Linked DNA regions of Homo sapiens. The protein of the gene in region 3 interacts with the protein of the main gene of each other region in a pairwise test. Each region holds a gene or a part of one and is shown on either strand. Other genes may lie near its edges.

Region 1 (3,500 bases), on a different chromosome or scaffold from region 3:
GTTGGTAATAAAAATTGTTTAGGACTCTCAAAAAAGTTTAATGAATCAAGATTTAAATACAATTATTACTGAACCTGATCATCATGTGTGGCAGCAAATTTAACTTAAATTTCCTTCAAATTCATGTCCCATTTGTAGGCACACATTATTCTTGCCCATTTTGATTTCCTAATTATCAAGTCCCTCCACCACCTTCATGCTCTTCATGAGTCACAGATATCTTTGCTTCTCCTCAAATAGGATCAAGTGACTAAACCTGAGGCAGGGGCTCCATCCAATGTGATGATGGCTTTGAGTTTGGGGCACCAGCTCTGAAGGGTGAGGGACAGATACAGGGTCTCTTAGCTCCTTTCTTGCTGCTGAGGGCTCCTCTGCTGCCTGTCCAATGCTACCACCTTCTTTCTCCAAGTAGGATTCTCTCCTCTCTTGGACCACTCTTGAAGAGAGTCTCATACACAGGCATTCTGATAGTTTCCTAAGGTTTTGGCTGCTAATTACTTAGAGTCACAAACAATCTTTGAGTACCAAGCATCCTTCTTCTGACCTGATCTTATTTTTTCCACTCTGGTTCAAAAACAATGTTACCAAAGATGCTTAAAGTCTCTGATAGAAAGCTGTTATTGCCATTGATGCTCCCAGTATTTTTCACCACTTAGATCAGTCAACTCACCCATTGTGGTCATAGTTGTCAAGAGCATACAGTAGAATCTGGTAGTGAATCCATAACTCTACCAAAGAGTAAAAAGCACATACAAAAAATAAAGTCAGATATTTTGGAAGGCAATGAGGATGTTAATCTCAACAGTATTTCAGGACACAAAAAATAAAATCGGAGGAATTTTGACAAGAACTAAAGAAACAATTTCAGGATACAGCACTAGTACTTCTGAGACTGTGTGTGTGTGTGTGTCTGTGTGTGTGTGTGAGAGAGAGAGAGAGAGAGAGAGAGGGGACACAGAAAAAAGAAAGAAAATGTAAGAATAATGAATGTTTCTATATCAATGGCTAGTTCCCGGTCATCCTTGGTAGGAAATAAACAAGTAGATAAGTCAAGCCTTAATTATGTTTAAAACATTTTGTGAACTTAAAGTGGATTATGTGTTTACAATGATTTTGTTTTCTCTTTGTCTGGATTCATTTTTTTAAAGTTATATGGCTATGTTTTACAATATCAAGACTTCCTAGCACCGAAACCCCTGGCTTGGCTAATTTAATCTCTCTGCTACTTCATTTCCTCATCTGTAAGTTAAGACACATGCAAAATACACTCCACATCTGTCAACTTCATAAAACCATGCTGAATATTCAGCATTTTGCCAATATTGGTTTTTAGACAACCTGCTCTCTACACCATATATTATGCCATAAAAATCAGTATGTGGCAATATAAACGGATACACATTTTTAGTTTCAAATACACAAACATTCTCATCAAGGTAATACACTCCCAAGACTCAAGAATTAATGCTCTTCACCACAATTTTCTAACTTTTCAAACGTTTAAATAAGTTTAAGAAACTGATCACATACATTTTTTTGCTGCTGATAACAACTGGGATTCTCTAAGAGTGTGCTGAGGTTTCTTAACCTATTTGACCACAGAACCTCTTTCTCACAGTGGAAATGTGTGAGAAACACATTTTGGAAACAATATATTAAATGGTATCTTTTTATGTCTTTAAGAAAAGTTCCCCTACACAAACTAATTTTGGACTCTGATCAATAGCTCCAACCTTTAAGCACAGATAGACATTAATATTGTGCTAGTCTTTCAGCCTGTGAGGAAAGGAGTGCCAGAGTTCAAATTATCGCATCTCGTTAGCCTGGTCTGAGGGCCATGAGGGGAACCTTTCAAGTTCTAAGTGGGTGTTCTCATGTCCTTGAATGGCTCCTGGAAATTCATCCAGGTCTCAGGAAAAACAATAACCTTTTACAAAAAGAAAGGCATCTATAGGCATCCGCTACTTTTCAGCAGGATGAATAATTGGATTGTCTATGCAGAATACACTAATAAATCATAACAGGGGAAAATGTTCAAAACACCAAAAAGGTAAGAATTTGAGTTTCTGACATAAGCAGCCTTATTAAATGATTACTAGATTTTTCAGACATCCTCTACTGAGGAAGAGAACTGGAAGACACTCAAATTACTCCAGATTCAGGTGACAAGCCAGGATTGCTAAGCAAGTTCCTTGGGAAACTAATCTCCAAAAAGGGCACGAGACATCCATAGATGTTACCTGAACTCCAGGGAGAGTACTGCATGAAGTCTGAAATAATACTTTGATAAGCTGCTTTGGGGCACAGAATGACTTCCCTCATGGGACATGAATAAGTAACTAGCTAAATTGCCCCCTAAGGAAGGTGAGAATTGCAAACCGTCCTAAACTGAAGTGGTCATGCAGAATTCTTAAATGCTTTTTGGTAGATAGGAGCAACCACAGAAGTTTGAGTTAGCTGAAGGTTAGCTACACCTTTATAATCATGCTACCAGGTTATAATGAAAAGTAGGTCTCCGACCAAATCTGCCACACATACAGATATTCATTTAACAAAACATTCAGTAGCAAGCAGACACAGTATATAAGCTTCTGTAAGCTTTCCGCACTTTAGGTACTCCAAGCATGAAAGCTTCATTCTCAACAGATTCCTAATGTTTCAGAGGCCAAAATCTTCCTAAACGTTCCTGGAGATAGGACCATATGAGGATCAAGCCTTGGGTGTCGTCTCTAAATATACACTACAGGCCACCCTCATACACCTTTATCCTGTTTATGCAAGGGTGGGCTGTCTCCAAAACACGTTAGTTGATTCACAGATCTTAAAATGTCATATAATTGTAACATCCATCATGCTGCTTTGTAAGCCGCCAATTTCACTAATAAAAACCCATTTGTGACCTTCACTGTAATAATTAACAATGTTTCAGGTGTTAATTGAGATGGGACCACTGAAGCCCTTTTGGTGGCCATCTCTGTGGAGTGGCTTCCTGAGCTGAACACTAGCTTACCATCCTTGAACAGAGCATCCAACATTAGGGCAACCAGCTGCCCCTGTAGGAAAGATTAAAGTGACCAGTATATGCATATTATCACACTGCCTAAAATGTCATAGAATGAGGCTTGGTTTGTTTTTTAAATTTTTTCTATTTCTATTATTTTTCTATCGAATTATTTTTCTATTTTTATTTGCTGGGTCACAGACAACAGCAAATTCCATACCTTCAGAGTTATACCAGCTCATCTGCAGTAGGAGTAGAAATATCAAAGCTCTCAGTCTACCACCTTGTGCTCCAGAGATGTGGCCCAAGCACATCTTTGGACGTGAACCAGGGCAACCCAAGGCAGAGCTGGATTTCTGGGAGTTTCTCCCTATAAGCCCTGGACATGCTTACCTATACACCAGACTGCTTCCAGAGCCACTGCCGGGCAGAAGAGCCTGGGGTGTGTTCAGCTGCTAGAATAACACAAGTCTGAGGTCTTGTGTCGTCGGTCCAACAT
Region 2 (3,500 bases), on a different chromosome or scaffold from region 3:
CTTTCTGTAAGTAGCACTGAAACACCTTCTTAGGCAGATCCACACCCCCCCGCGTGTGTGGCAGACGCTGGCTGGTGGTGTGGAGCGCCGCGAGGCAGGTGATGAGAACACAGCCACGATTTAGTCACCGCAGAGAAGCAGTGTGTGGACTTGAGCTAGAAATCCGGACACCTTCCATCTTTTCCTAGTTTCACTTCTCAAGTTGAAATCTCTCACCCTTTCTGAACCATGTATTTTCCAATCTGTCAAGGGGGTCAGGAGTGTTTGTCAGAGAAGCATCTATAGCATCTGTGCCCTCTACGTGCCCTCTGGCGGAAGTTGTTTTCCTGAAACTTTGGACCAGCTTTGGCATTTTAAGCAGGTTTGTTGGCAAAGAGATGGACTGGCAGCAGCAGGGAGGGAGCAATGTGTCTGTCTCACTTGGATTCTGCCCCGAGGGCTCACAATCTGTTTTCCCTGCAGCACCAAGTACCCTAGCGCCACTCAGCAAATGCGAGTTAACGGAATCAGCCCGGCTTCTACAGGGAACCTGGGCTCCTTTGCCTCAGGAAGGCAAGTGGCTTCCCAGACAGCGTAATTTGGGAGGATGCATCGCTCTGCCACCCAGGCTGGAGTGCAATGGCGCGATCTCAGCTCACTGCAGCCTCTTCCTCCCGGGTTCAAGCGATTCTCTTGGCTCAGCCTCCCTACTAGCTGGGATTATAGGCATGCACCACTGCACCTGGCTAATTTTTGTATTTTTAGTAGAGACGGGGTTTCACCATGTTGCCCAGGCTGGTCTCAGGTGATCTGCCCGCCTCGGCCTCCCAAAGTGCTGGGATTATAGGCGTAAGCCACCGTGTCTATGGCCAAGCCTCTCTGAATTAGACAACAACTAGATAACCTACTTGGAAATTTGATTAGCATCTTCCAGATTTTCCACAATGAGGAGCGTCATCCCCAGCAGCTTGAAGGCCTAATTTTGTGTTTATTACCACAGTGACTTTGCTTTTTAAACCAGTAGGATTCTGCCAGGGAAGACTTGGAAGTGGCAGGAGACCCTGCTCTGCTGTAGGAAAGGATGTTCTCAGAGTTTCTGCCCTGTTCATAGTTTACATCCAATGCACACACACGCAGTTTCCTTATGTGACTGCGTCCTTGTTCCTCCTCATGCTGTGATTTCACCTGTGGACTGCTCTGTGTACTCCCATAGCATTAACCAGTCATGGGATGTGGGCTCCCAAAGCGAGGCCTAGCCTCGAGTGAGGAGGCAGCTCCCTTCAGAGAAGGGCAGTGTCCAGGAGGGACTTGTGGTCTGTTAGCACCAGTACACCTGGTGCCTCAGTCTTCCAGGGGGAATGCAGACAGAGCCACAGCACTCACCTCTGCAGCAGTTCTCAGACGTGCCCCCGACCCGCAGCCTCACCTCAGAAAGGCAACTCTTCCAGCCCCACTCTGGAGGGACGGAATCAGAAGCTGGGGAAAGGTCCAGCAGTCTGTGCGCACAGCCCTCTGGGGGATTCTGAGGCATGCTCAGGTTTGAGAGCCCCTGCATTATAATGATAGAAATAGTTGTAAATGGAGCCAGGCACAGTGGCTCATGCCTGTAATCCCAGCACCTTGGGAGGCCAAGGTGGGTGGATCACTTGAGGTCAGGAGTTTGAGACCAGCCTGGCCAATGTGGCAAAACTCCGTCTCTACTTAAAGTACAAAAAATAGCAACGTGTGGTGGTGCACGCCTGTAATCCCAGCTACTCAGGAGGCTGAGGCAGGAGAATCTCTTGAACCTGGGAGGTGGAGGTTGCAGTGAGCTGAGATTGCGCCACTGCACTCCAGCCTGGGTGACAGAGCCAGACTCCATCTCAATATATATATATATATATGTATGTATAAATAAATATATATGTATATTTATAAACTTTTTTTTTCAAAAACCATTTTAAAATGTTAAACATACGTGTCATAGGACCCAGCCCTTCACTCCTGGGTATTGAACTGAGAGAGGAAGGCATATGTACGCACAAAGACCTGTACGTGGATGCTCATAGCAGCTGTACTCACAATACCTTTAAACTAGAGACAACCCAGGTTCATCAGTAGGTGAATGGATAAACAGAGTGTGGTGTATCTACACAGCAGAGTACTTAAGAAGTGAGCTGTTGATAACCCAGCGTCATGGGTGAATGTCTAAGTTATGCAGAGTGAAAGAAGCCAGACCAAAAAAAAAAAAAACCCATATATATATATATATATATATATACACACACACACACACACACACACACACACACACACACACTCTATATATATATGTACTATGTATATGTGTACTATATATGTATATATACACTATATATACACACTATATACACACTATATATATATATATATATATATATATATATATATATATATATATATATATATAGTGTGTGTGTGTGTGTGTGTGTGTGTGTTTAGTTTTTGAGACAGAGTCTTGCTCTGTTGCCCAGGCTGGAGTGCAGTGGTGCAATTTCGGCTCCACTGCAACCTCCACCTCCTCCTGGGTTCTAGTGATTCTCCTGCCTCAGCCACCCAAGTAGCTGGGATTACAGGTGTGTGCCATCATGCCCGGATAATTTTGGTATTTTTAGTAGAGACCTGGGTTTCTCCACATTGGCAAGGCTGGTCTCGAACTCCTGGCCTCAAGTGATCCACCCGCCTCGGCCTCCCAAAGTGTTGGGATTACAGGCGTGATCCACCACGCTTGGCCTATATATATTTATATGCTATAAATATATAAAAGTCCATTGATAGAAAAGTCTAGAGTGCAAACCATAGTGATAAGAAAGATCAGTGGTTGCCTGGGAATGGGGTAAAGAGCAAGAAAGGGTTGGATTATTAAAAAAAATGAGGAAATTTTGAGGGGGATGATGGATGTGTTTATTATTATGATGTACTGGTGTCTCCATTGTGTACATATGTCAGAACTCATCAGGTAATGTACCTGATCAAGTTGTATAGCAGTTTATATGTCAAGAACACCTCAACAGAGCTGTAAAAAAAACACGACAGGTCTGACAGTTACCTGGGAAAGGTGGGGGAACAGGTGGTAGAAGAACACATTTTTTATGATGTTCATGGTACTTACATAACATAAATGAATAAAATAGGGCCAACATGGAAAAGAAAACAAAATGAAGGAAAATGTCAAATTGCCATCCTGAACACCAGCACCGCCTGTAATTAGCGTTCCTGGCTGCAGCCACATCTGCGGTCCTGCTCCTCATGAAGCCGTCCTCCGTGCCATGTCCCGGCCATGCCTGTCCTTAGCTTCCTGGTGCACACTGTCCTCCACCTTGTGTTCAGGCACAGGGCTGCTTGGCTCACCCTTGCTGCACCTGGCCTGTCCGTCCTCCCACCGCGGTGCCGCCCAGGCCTTCCCACTGCAGGGCTGGCTAACGGTGCATGGAAGAGACTCGAGTCCGTGTTGTGTCCTCATAGCCCACCGAGGAGGCAGCAGTGCCGGACATTTCGCGGAT
Region 3 (3,500 bases):
TTACGGTGCTTTTGTGGCCTTTCACAGACACACGCCCACGGCAGTGAAAAATTTGTGTCCCAGCTGGGGCTAAACAAGGCGATGGTCTGCTCCCTGGTTTCTGCCCTCATATTGTGAACATGTGGCCTTTTCTTGGTCTATTTAGTGCCAAGTTTCTTGCATATTTGGGCTTTTTGTTGGTGATTTTATTGTTTATGATGGCCCCCAGGCACAGCACTGAAGTGGTCTGGTGTTCCTAAGTGCAAGAAAGCTGCGACATGCCTTATGGAGAAAAAAATGTGTGTGAGAGAAGCTTCGTTCAGGCATGAGTTATGAGGCTGTTGGCCATGGGTTCAATGTGAAGGAATCAACAGTACACATTGAATATGGTGTCTTTAAACAGAAACACACATAAACCAAGGTTATGTATTGGTTGGTTGGTGAAAGTATTATGACGAGAGGCTCACAGGAATTTGACTCTGTATTTCCCATAGGAGCAGTGGTTCAGTATTCACTAATTCAGTGTTCCCTGTAGCTTTCTAGAAGATAATTACCGCAGATAACAACCTATTTTAGTAGGTGACAAAAATCGAAACCTTCCCTTGGAAGAGTTCATAGCAGAGCCCCCAGGTAGCCCTTCCTTCCAGCCCTCACTGACGCTTGCTCTTTTGTGACCGCTCTCCTTGGCAGGTTACTTTCTGAATTTTCTGGAGCCAGTAAACAATATCACCATTGTCCAAGGCCAGACGGCAATTCTGCACTGCAAGGTGGCAGGAAACCCACCCCCTAACGTGCGGTGGCTAAAGAATGATGCCCCGGTGGTGCAGGAGCCGCGGCGGATCATCATCCGGAAGACAGAATATGGTTCACGACTGCGAATCCAGGACCTGGACACGACAGACACTGGCTACTACCAGTGCGTGGCCACCAACGGGATGAAGACCATTACCGCCACTGGCGTCCTGTTTGTGCGGCTGGGTGAGTTGGACAGTGAAATTGTGTGGGTTAGCAGATATGAAGGTTCCCAGCCACCGAGCAAGAGGTCCAGTTGCTATTTGAAACTGAACACACACCAGTCAGCACGAGGGGAGAGCAATGAAACCGTTCCCTAGGGCCTTCCCCATGTGCCCCAGGGCCCAGCTTGACCTGTTACCCATTTACTAGTAATAAGAGAAAATAGGGCGAGGCACGGTGGCTCACGCCTGTAATTCCAGCACTTTGGGAGGCCGAGGTGGGCGGATCACCTGAGGTCAGGAGTTTGAGATCAGCCTAGCCAACATGGTAGTAGTTGGCCAGTTTAGTAGAAACTCCATCTCTACTAAAAATACAAAATTAGCCTGGCATGGTGGCGGGCGCCTGTAATCCCAGCTACTCAGGAGGCTGAGGCAGGAGAATCGCTTGAACCTGGGAGGTGGAGGTTGCAGTGAGCCGAGATCACGCCATTGCATTCCAGCATGGGTGACAAGAGTGAAACTCTGTCTCAAAAAAAAAAAAAAAAAAAAAAAAGAGAACAAAAAGAAAATAGGTGCAGATGGAGAGGTTTATGGACCTGGAGCCCAGAAGACAATCCCAGGCACACACGAGGAGCTGAGGTGTTTAGCAGGAAGGCTGTTTGTTAGGAGGTCAGGTGTCAGTGGGAGAGTGGCCACACTGCAGGACGGCTAGGTAGGGCCCGAGGCTGACCTGGCTGGGGTGGGGAGAGAGCTGAGTGCGATGACCAGAGATTCTGAGTCTCTGTGCTCGTCACACCTGGTGAAGGAATTAAGTGGCAGGAAGGACTGTGTCCCCCTTCATCCCACCTGTGAAAAACTCCCAGGCAGCAAACGCCCCGGCCCTGCCACCGAAGCCCACGCCATCCGATCATAAGTAGTAAAACAGATTTTGTGTGTAAAGACTAGATGAGAAGAGAGAGAGTAAGGACAGCAAAAACTCCAAAAACAAAGATATCCTCAGTGACAAAGCACCCCTTCCCTTGTGTGTGGTTTCCAGCCTTGCTGACGTAATCACGAGTGGAGCCTGAGGCCCGAGGACAGCTGCCCACCAGTGAGCCCGCTGGCTTCAGCCTGTTTGCCACTGGCCTGATTTGAAGAAGGTTGTATTCCAAATCATGGAGTATTAATAACTTGTCTTTTTGTTTCCTCTTTTTAGGTCCAACGCACAGCCCAAATCATAACTTTCAGTAAGTATCTGTTTTCCCCAAGCCGTGTTCTGCTGCTCTGAGGGTTTTTGTTATGTAGGAATCCGGGGTTTAAATCCTGCCAGCTCATGTCTTTGCCGAATTTGCTAGAAGTTGGCTGGGCTTCACACAGGGGTGGCCACGTGCTTGCTTAGGGTTGGGAAACATTTACATTTTTCATGTTTCTTGTACAGAAAAAAAGTCAGAAAAACAAAAATGGTTAATTTCTTTCTGTGATTGTGACCTTACACAGGGCTACTGAGAGGAGTATAAATATACAGGCCAGGTTGCCTGGGCACCAGGAAGGATACCGGCTCATTAGGACATTGGGAAACAGGGACGTAATTCACTCTGAAATCCCAGCACTACCAGCTGCAGTTAATAAATGTGTGCCCCTGAGCCTTGGGCCACCCCGTGGCAGTGGGTGGGAGTCTCAACCCCACCTTGCAGATGAGGAGACCGAGGCTCACAGCCAGGCTCACACTCCTTCACGAGCTGCTGACAGCAGTGGCTTTGAACTCAGGCCTCTGGTTTCCCAGTACGAGGTTATTCCACTGTGGCCAGGCTGTCTTGGGAGAGTCCCCTCTGAACTGCCCACACTCTCCCATCGTGTACCCAGAGGAGTGCTCATTCCATTGCCGGTGTTTGAGATGAGCAGTGACTGTCCGGGTTTCCTGCATTTCCTCCTCAGACATATTGGAGAGCAGTGCTTCACTTTGAGATGTTCTGAACAATAGCATGAACACTATATGGTTGGTAAAGTGTGCAGTGTTGGCTGATTTCTGTTTCCCTGGGCCTTGTACCCATTACCCACCCATGATGTGCTGCAACACCACGTTGGGAGGCTGGGCAGGGCAGCGACCTGTCTCAGCAGACATCAGCAGCTTGCTTGCAGAGGGCAGATTTTTTTCCCCCCCCAAATAGACAGGCCTGGCTTTTCACCCAGACTGGAGTGCAGTGGCACGATCACAGCTTACTGTAGTCTTGTACTCCTGGGCTCAGGCCATCCTCCCCCTTCAGCCTCCCAAGTAGCTGGGACTGCAGGTGCGTGCCACCACACACCCGGATAATTTTTTCTTATTTTTTGTAGAGATGGGGTCTCACTATGCTGTCCAGACTGGTGACAAACTCTTGCCTCGAGCAATCCTCCTGTCTCGCCCTCCCAAATCACTGGGATTGTAGGTGTGTGCCACCACACCTGACCTAGAGGGAAGATATTTGGGAAGATTCTGTGCTGAGCAATAGTGATGGAGCATTTTTCCTTAATAGTCCTTCAGACACAGAGTAAGGAAAGAAGAAATTGCATCATGAGCACAATTATGGGGCTTTGGAAAAAGGCATATAA
Region 4 (3,500 bases), on a different chromosome or scaffold from region 3:
AAATATATCTTGATCCTTTGTAAGCATCCCCTGCTTCCTCTAATTTTAATGCCTAAGAAAAAAATTATAGGCTGTGCACATAAGGAGTAGAAAAGGGGATGGGGCATGACAGTCATCCTTCCCCCATTTCGTTGAAGATGATATTAAAAAAACTTTTAGTAAGATGATTTAATTTCCCAATTTCCTACATATGTTCTGAATAAGGAAGCCTTAAGTGTCCAGTTCATAGTCTTGATTTAGAAGTGCCTATTTTAAATGACTACTGACAGTGGGCTGGTCTTTCTCTTCTTTTTAGTTGTTTTGCAGCCAGGTCCATCATTTGGAAATCAGGAAGGCTTGTGTCTCATATATGAGGGAAAATCAACAAACTTTTGAGTCTGTAAGTAGAATACATACCCAGGGGAGAACTGGTAGAGTGTGTAGCAGGTGGAAAAATAATTGTGAGCACCTACCAAAATTAAACTATATCATGCTGTCTCCTCAATAGCAAATATATAATTCCCAACTGGCTCCCTTCCCAGTAGCTAACATGCTTCTTGAGCCTCTGCTAGAATTAGGTTGTTTAGGACTCTAATTAAAAATCAAGAATAATCTACATTTTCCCACTACTTACCTCGTCCTACGCCAAGAACTCCAGACCCTAAAAAGTTATGTTTTGATTGCTGTTTTATATTATCCATACAGTTTTATTGAACAATTAATAATAGTTCATGAAAGGTTTGGCTCTGTTAATATTTTGCAATGCATATTTTAAAATACGTAAAAATGGGAACCCCCTCTATTTTCTTGCTTAATCCTGTGTACAATAATCTTCAGCCAGTCAATTTGAGGAATCTTGTAAAACTTAATTGTAAGGGAACAAATGAGTCTAAGTATCTAGTCTTTCCATGTCACAAATTGTATAATTAGAGCTCTGCCACTAATGATTAACTTTAGGTAAAACAACTTACAGAAGACATATTTGTACACCTTCATGTATTTGAATTCTTGTTAATGAAATTGGAGGCTTCCTTTTCTTTTTTTTTTTTTTAAACACTTCTGGCCCTTGCAGTGCTATTTGTTTCTTCTGTTTATTGTGGGTATTCGCCTGCTGTTCGAGTTTTACTCCTAATTTTCTCAACTGGTTTCAGTGAATTTTAAAACTATGTGAAGACTTCTTGACTTAAAAGCTTGTTACCTTGAAGTTCATTGTAGTCTTCTCTACACCTGGGGAAAGGATTATTAGTAACATTACTTCAAATGCAAGGCCATAGTGTAAAGCAGTGCGTCTCAAGTATTTCTGTGCATACAAATCACCTGGAGATCTTGTTAAAATACAGGTTTTCATTCAGTAGGTCTGAGTTGGGGCCCGAGATTTCTTTTTTTTTTTTTCTTACCTTGAGACAGGGTCTTCTCTGTTGCCCAGGCTGGAGTGCAGTGGCAGGATCACGGCTCGCTGCAGCCTCTGCCTACGAGGCTGAAGCAATCCTCCCACCTCAGCCTCCAAAGTAACTTGGGACTACAGGCACACGCCACCTCACTGGGCTAAGTTTTTTGTGTTTTTAGTAGAGATGGGGTTTCGCCATGTTGCCCAGACTGGTCTCAGACTCCTGGGCTCAAGTGATCTGCCCGCCTTGGCCTCCCAAAGTGCTGGGACTACAAGTGTGAGCCACTGCGTGCAGTGGAGATTTCTGCATTTTTAACGAACTGAAGTAATGCTTGCTATTGGTTTGTGGACAACATTTTGAGTAACAAAGATGTGTGTAAAATTTTAAAACTACGTAAATGAATCTCAATTCAGTACTGAGTGATAGAAACCAGACCCCATGCAAAGTTTATACTGTTTGATTTCCCTTATATAAAACTCTAGAAAAAATACAAGCCAATCTGTAGTGACAGAAAGCAGATCAGTGGTTATATGTCAGTTATAGAGGGGCACAAGGGTACTTACGGAAGTGATACATTCACCATCTCAATTGTGATGATGATTTCATGGGTGTATACATAAGTCAAAATTTGTACTATTTAAATTGTGCAGTTTATTGTATGTCATTTATTTATTTTTTGAGATGGAGTCTTGCTCTTTCACCCAGGCTGGAGTGCAGTGGCACGATCTCGGCTCACTGTAAGCTCCGCCTCCTGGGTTCATGCCATTCTCCTGCCTCAGCCTCCCAAGTAGCTGGGACTACAGGTGCCCGCCACCATGTCTGGCTAATTTTTTTGTATTTTTAGTAGAGATGGGGTTTCACCATGTTCGCCAGGATGGTCTCGATCTCCTGACCTCATGATCTGCCTGCCTCGGCCTCCCAAAGTGCTGGGATTACAGGCGTGAGCCACAACACCCAGCCTGTATGTCATTTATATCTCAAAACTTTTTAAAAGGAAAATTTAAATGATTTTTTAAAAGTCTAGTGATATGTATCCATGGAACTAGAAATAAATCTATTACAGTCCCTGAGTTTAATTTCATTTTTATTGAGGCATATTTTACATTCAATAAAACTCGTCATTTTAAGTTTACCATTTTTAGTTTTGGAGATGATATGCAATCATGGAACTACCACTGCAGTCAAGATATAGAATGTTTCCGTCACCCCTAAAAGGTTCGCTTGTCCCATGGTCTTTTTAGAAACTAATGAAATTCTCTTTAAAGTTCCTCAGTTTAATTTTGTAAATGCATGTTTTGTCAAATTTGAAATCCTTAGAAATACTGGTCTTGCTTGATTTATGAAAATTGTCATTACTTAAATTGGCATTTCAAATGAAACTCGAAAGCATACCATTTGATGAAATGCACTGGTATGTGGATATGCCAGGACCAATTCCTAAGATACTTTTATACTCCAGCTTTTCTCCACTCATGACTTTTGTGTATGTGCAAATCTTCTTGAGGTGCTGTGCAAAGTAGATACTTACACCATAATTGTTGAGCTGAGCAAAAAACGCATTGCAGGATAATGTAGAATATAATCAGATTTCAGTAATGCTGTGTATTTGGTTAAGTTGAGTTTGTTTTATTTTTGAAGTATGTGGAGGGATCTTTTGAGAAATACCTGGAACGGTTGGGAGATCCCAAGGTAAGATCAAATATGGGGGTTTAATCTTTTCAGAGTTATTTGGAATAGTAATGTAAATTTATTCATTCAACTGTATTATTTTAGCCAGACCCCAAATATTTTATTTAGTAGCCAGCTGTGTTGAATCCAATAGTTCTCACATAAGTTTAGAGGCTGGCAATTGACCAATTGTTTTGTGTTGAATATTGATAATTGTGTGTTAATCCCATCAACCATAGACTAGCAAAAGAGTATACACTACTTGGAAACAGGACAAGCTTAAGCCTTTTCACTTTAACGGGGGAGGAGGGTGGTAATGAATTTTACCAAGAGGTCATTATTTTGTTATTAAACAATTCCCCTGATTTGTAGTTGTCTTCCTCTTATGTGGGAGTAAAATTCATAAATTCATGCTTTATTTAGAAATAATTTTTATGTGATAAAGTTAATTCCATAGTTCTGGAC

What was found.
Region 1: the proteins of ROR2 (region 3) and TPTE interact in a two-hybrid assay, tested with the Homo sapiens proteins (one study listed by BioGRID and IntAct).
Region 2: the proteins of ROR2 (region 3) and DUSP14 interact in a two-hybrid assay, tested with the Homo sapiens proteins (one study listed by BioGRID and IntAct).
Region 4: the proteins of ROR2 (region 3) and ALG13 interact in binary tests that used the Homo sapiens proteins (3 or more experiments, as listed by UniProt).

Annotation. Positions count from the first base shown.
Region 1 is NC_000021.9:10,524,583-10,528,082, reverse strand, and holds part of TPTE (putative tyrosine-protein phosphatase TPTE), read right to left. Parts: 5' UTR 3,395-3,500; intron 729-3,394; 5' UTR 671-728; intron 1-670.
Region 2 is NC_000017.11:37,506,891-37,510,390, forward strand, and holds part of DUSP14 (dual specificity protein phosphatase 14), read left to right. Parts: intron 1-3,500. UniProt on the Homo sapiens protein: Involved in the inactivation of MAP kinases. Dephosphorylates ERK, JNK and p38 MAP-kinases. Plays a negative role in TCR signaling by dephosphorylating MAP3K7 adapter TAB1 leading to its inactivation.
Region 3 is NC_000009.12:91,754,729-91,758,228, reverse strand, and holds part of ROR2 (tyrosine-protein kinase transmembrane receptor ROR2 isoform 1 precursor), read left to right. Parts: intron 1-669; coding exon 670-957; intron 958-2,127; coding exon 2,128-2,158; intron 2,159-3,500. UniProt on the Homo sapiens protein: Tyrosine-protein kinase receptor which may be involved in the early formation of the chondrocytes. It seems to be required for cartilage and growth plate development. Phosphorylates YWHAB, leading to induction of osteogenesis and bone formation.
Region 4 is NC_000023.11:111,708,670-111,712,169, forward strand, and holds part of ALG13 (UDP-N-acetylglucosamine transferase subunit ALG13), read left to right. Parts: intron 1-295; coding exon 296-379; intron 380-3,005; coding exon 3,006-3,056; intron 3,057-3,500. UniProt on the Homo sapiens protein: Catalytic subunit of the UDP-N-acetylglucosamine transferase complex that operates in the biosynthetic pathway of dolichol-linked oligosaccharides, the glycan precursors employed in protein asparagine (N)-glycosylation.